Linked DNA regions of Homo sapiens: region 2 is linked to region 1. A link means that fine-mapping ties the variant in region 1 to the expression of a gene that starts in the linked region. Tissue or cell type: whole blood. Region 1 holds a variant in brackets; the other region holds the start of a gene. All regions are shown on one strand. Distances are between the middles of the regions.

Region 1 (2,684 bases):
CACCACGGTCCAGAAATCTGCTTTCTGAAACCCCAGCCCTGGCCCTCTGGCCTCAGAGTGTGTATAGTTAGTTCTCTCTCTCTTTTTTTTTTTTTTTTTTTTTTTTTTTGAGACAGGGTCTTGCTCTGTTGTCCAGCTTGGAGTGCAGTGGCACAATCTCCATTCACTGCAGCCTCTGCCTCCCTGATTCAAGTGATCCTCGTGCCTCAGCCTCCCAAGTAGCTGGGATTATAGGCACGCACCACCACACCCAACTACTTTTTATATTTTTAGTAGAGACGGGTTTCACCATATTGGCTAGGCTGGTCTCAAACTCCTGACCTCAAGTGATCCGCCCACCTCAGCCACCCAAAGTGCTGGGATTACAAGCGTGAGCCACCATGCCAGGCCTGGAGTATATTCTTTACTAGAGGAAAAAGAATCCAAGCATTGGACCAGGCCACCTTCTCCTGGCACAGCCACATCCACATCCTTTCCTTCAGTGTTTCCTCTTGTCAGCACCCCCTCCCCACCTCAGCTGCTGTCTTCCTCCTCAACCATCCTCCTCCTCCTCACAGATCAGTGATCTCCTCAGATGGTCCCAGACAATCCGGGGGTGTCCATGCCAAACCTCAGCCTTCCATCGAAGCATCATGGCCTTGTACGTGTGAGGCTGCTCCTTCCTCTGATGACTGATCCGGTGTGCACAGGTTTCCGGACACAATCCCACCACCTTTGATGGGACCCAGTGGAATTACTCTAGTTAGGGGTTAGATTTTTTGTTAAAACTTTTTATTTTGAAATAATTTTAGATTTACAGAAGACTTGGAAAAACAATACAGAGAATTCCCACACACCCAGCTTCCTCTAGGGTTACTGTCTTGAACAACCACAGCTCTAAAACGTTAACACTGGGGCAGTGCCATTAACTACAACTTGATTCAGATCTCACCCGTTTTTCATTAATGTCCTTTGTTTGTCCAAAGATCCAGCTCAGGATCCCATATTGTCTTAGTCAATCTTTGACAATCCTTTACTCTTCCCTTGTCTTTTATGACATTGACAGCTTTGTAGAGTACTTACCAGGTATTTTGTAGACTGCCCCTTAATTTGTGTTCATCTGATGCTTTCTCAAGATTAGAATGAGGTTATCCATTTTTGGCAAAAATGCCACAGGGGCGATGTGCCCTTCCTGTACATCATAGCAGGGGGCACATATGCCAATATGCCTTATTGCTAGTTGTGTTGCTCTTGATCTCTCGGTTAAGGTGGTGCCTGTCAGCTTTCTCCACAGTAAAGCTGCT[G/A]ATTTTCCCATTGTAATTAATAAATACAACTGAGGAGATACTTTGAGATGATGCAAATACCCTGTTTCCTCTTTGGCCCTTTCCCACTGACTCAGGACACATTTGTGGATCTTGCCTCTAGCATTTTTACTGTGTAGTTTTGAGGTCAAGTAGCTGGATTTTTAGGGCCAAGGTGAAAGGAGACCATCACCTGGCCAAGCCACTGGGAGAGATTTGGAGAACATTCAGCTTGGACTACAGTCCTAATCTCTTGCCAGATGACTTCGGGCAACTCTTCAAACCACTCTAGTTAATTTCTCATCTTCATGAAATAGGTCTTTCTTCCACTTTTCTTCTCAAGAGGGTGAAAGAAATGACTCTAATTATGCACACCCAGTGGCAATGATGACAGGAGATCCTTTCCATGTGGCGATGAGACACAATGGCATCACTGATTTATTTCACGGGCTGATGGAGTTTTATTTCCAAGAGAGGAAGGAAGTCTGGGACTTTTAACCATAGGAGAAAACATTTCTCTGTATCTCAGTATTTTAACCACTGAAATGCTCACCCCTGCCAGTTGCAAGCCCACATTTTCACATATGACCTGTGATCCAGGAGTCCATTCAATGTTGGGCTTCATTTCACTGATTAATGTATTAGTCCAGATTTTGTAAACTCACTTGTCTTCTAGGCAAAAAAAAATAGATGTTTTCTAGATCAATGAAGTTAAAATGAAGAAGGAAAAAAAATGAGGACAGAAAATGGAGCAGGAAAGGGTTCGTAGAACAAAAAGAAACACCTGCTTTTGAGGCCAAGATTTTCCATGCAAGTCACTTGCAGGTGTCCTAGAAGAGCTGGTGAAGCTGTGAGCACAGGCGGAAAACACCAGCTGTGGTTGGTTTGGCACATCCCAGGCAGCTGGTGGTCTCATCTTCATTTAGGGAAAGCAGGCTTGTGGGATGCCTTTGGGCTGAAGAGCTTATGGAATGGGTTCCAAGTTATTGGTCTTTCCGAGGAATGGGAGCTGGGGTGGGGGTGGGGGATGGTTCTTCTTGTTCTTCCCTGAAGGTCCTGATCCCAGGAGGAGGCAGCAGCATCAGTAAGAGTCTGGGAACCAAAGCAGAATGTGGCGCCCCAGCCCAGCCGCTCACCCTGCGCTGTCCATGGCTTTCTGACTGCAGGAGAGAGCCCTGGCCTCTGCCTTGTGTCCCTGGTCCCTCTGTCTGAGCCAGGGCTGACCAGACCCTCTGTGGGCAAGGCCTTGATCTGCAGCAGATTCTGAAACCCTAATCACTTCCCCTGCCACTGGCTCACCTTAGTGTTAACTAGAGGTATGAAGGATGATCTGATCTGTCTCAGAGCCAGCAAGAAGCAACTTGGAGGCTCTTTCTTGATTCTGTTCCTCTCAATTTGTATGGG
Region 2 (2,684 bases), 190 kb before region 1:
CCATGTAACAGCTCTCGAGTTCATAACTCTTCAAGATTGACAAGAAATAGTTCATTTTCTATACTGTGCTTTATTAAAATATAGAAAACCGAGACATCAGGAACGGAAGCACTTTGCACAAGGACAAAAGCCTGACAGAAAGAAGTTCAGATGGCCTCGGCTCTTCTCTTTTATCAGAATTCTCTCGAGGGTGTCATAATTAGAGTTCAGCCAAAACTAAGCCTACTGAAAATGCCTTTCAGCATTTTGTACTTTTGTGACCATGTGTATGAAAAGCTATGTGAACACCAGCTGAATGTTGGAGCCAGTTTGGCCAAGCTGCGAGCGGTGAGATTTTGTTTCAAAATATTTGCGTCTCCTCTACGAAGTGAAATCTTCTAATATTACCTGGACAGCCCCTTAGCAGACTAGGTTTAATAGAATCTGAGAAATGCCACCAGAGATCAGTTTCAGTTAATCCCTAAATTTGTTGCACTGATAAGAAAGAAGGCATCTTCTTTTCTCTAAAGCAGAATAATATGTTTTCATCCACTATTACTGCAACAGCTTTCATATCATCACAAACACACACAATCTCAAATGAACACTCACCACAAACACACACGGGGAAGCAGATGAAGTGATAGGCAATGAGTTTACATTTGCCCTTTTGCTTCCAATCTTCAACTAGCCAAACATTTCTGGCAAGTTTGCTATACTTAGGAGGAGATCATCCAGCTTCCAAATAAAGTTGTCTTTCACCTTATCTGGACGGAGTTGGGGCTCAGGTCTGCGATAGGGTATGCAGCTAGTCACAAATTAATATTATTTTCTGACATTTAAGTCCATTTTCCCATCCCAATGGGGCATGCCCCCCACTTTATGGTAATTTCCCCAGAATTTCTCCATTTAAAATGCACATAAGACAGGTGGCTTCATCCTCTGATGATCTCAGATAAATTAATTAAGTTGGCTGGAGGAAAGCCATTGGAGACAGTCGTTCCTGTAAGCATGTTTAATCAGATCCCGCCGCCTCTGAGTGAAGAGCGGCAGCCTCTTCAATATTCAAGGGGTCTCATCTCTCCTGCCAAGCCCTGCCAGCCCACGCGGGGCGGCAGATAAACTCACCTGCCATTCTTGGTCACAATCATCTCATTAGTGACTTCCTTGAATCTCTGCCAGAGAGGTGCATCCTCCAGGATGATCTGAAGTTGCTTCTCCGTAGGGTCGCCTTTTTCCCTCCCTGCCTGAAGCTCACTCTCCACCACATTGAGCAGATGAGAAACAGTGCCATCGCTGGGCTTCCGAGTGCCCAGCTCACTCATGGCCATAGGCACTTCTCGAACTTTGCCGAGAGCCGTTACCCAACTTGCCTGCTTCTAGCTTCTTCCTTCCCTCACTTGCCTGCTTTTCAAACCCACTTGAACAGTGCTTGGGGAGCGGAGAGAAGATACCCTGGCTCTTGCCTAAGCTCCTAGGATGACACCCCTTAAAAGTCTCCACATTATGCCACCAACCTGTTAAGCTTTAGTTGGGGAGCGGGGTGGAGGCAGGGGAGAGGTAGGGAAGAAAAAGCCCTCTCTTAATTACTCATTGGATCAGGTGGGAGAGAGCCTGGCTTTCCCATTGGCTGCCGTGCACAGAGTAGATATTTAAGAAGAGTACTCCATCCAAATTATCAGGCTTTTATCTTGTTGTACCTGAAGAGGTCTAATCGGTGTATTGAGGACCATTTTCCCATTAATTAAAATTATTCCAGGCCCAGACTGCACTGTCAGGCAAATCATGTTTGTGCATAAATCATGACATGTGGCACCTATAAAGAAAAGGGTCCTGGGGAGAATCGACAAACTTGATGCCCAGGCTATAAGCTACTCTCCAGCATCTTAGACGAAGGCTCTGGAGGGAAGAAAGCATGTATGGAAGGTCCAAGGCACTGTGCCAAGAAACATGACTACTGTACCAGAGAATAAAGGAAGACACTCTGTGTGCCACTGCTCAAGGGTCAGGGCTCCGGAGAAAAGAAAAGAGCTCAGAATCTCTTTCTCCCAGGGTGTCCCCTACTGATCATCTCTCTCCTGAATGTCCTATACTCGCTCACACCCCACTTTTCTCAAGGGCCCTCCTCACCTCCTACAAATGGAGCTGTGAATGTTGTCCTTCCTCCCTAGAGTCTAGAACCCCAATTTTTGTTATCTCTAGCCTTTGCCAGAGGAAGACAAAAAAGCAGCTAGTATCATATTAATCTCGCTAAGGAACACTCTGCCCCCAGTCAGTGAAAATAAACTGTTTACATTATTAGGCAGAGCAATTTCAATCTTTGGTCCAGAAAGGCATTCTGGTTTTCTCTTTAGACAATTCATCCTTATTTTGGCATTCCAGGATGAATCCCACATTCCCTGGGAAGAAACACTAGTAGAAAGCTTTTCTTTTGCCCACAACACACAGTACTAATGGCGAGTGAGTGGATGGCGGGTGGAAGAGACAGGAGCAGAGGAAGCTCTACCTCCTCTGGCCCCCAACCTTGAGTAGAGCCTGGGGGTTGTGAGTTTTTCTCTCATTTCAATACAAAGTAAGAAAACAAGAACATAAGGAAAACAAACCCAAAAAGGTAAGATAAAGTCAGGGTAAGGATGACAGAAAATGTATTCAGGATCTCCTATGCTACATACCTATGAAGCATCACATACAGCAAGGAACAAACA

The links. PIP is the estimated chance that this variant, and not a neighbour inherited with it, causes the effect.
Region 2: TBX19 starts here. The variant in region 1 is fine-mapped to the expression of TBX19 in whole blood (TOPMed, PIP 0.91).

The regions. Positions count from the first base shown.
Region 1 is chr1:168,093,559-168,096,242 of GRCh38, reverse strand. All of the region lies in intron 3 of GPR161 (G protein-coupled receptor 161), which reads left to right. Among named protein-coding and RNA genes, the nearest start is that of GPR161, 42 kb to the left of the region's middle. The variant G/A (reference allele first, on the strand shown) is at 1,284.
Region 2 is chr1:168,279,717-168,282,400 of GRCh38, reverse strand. TBX19 (T-box transcription factor 19) reads right to left here and starts at 1,524. Exons shown (of 8, transcript NM_005149.3): 1 at 1,108-1,524. The coding sequence starts at 1,310.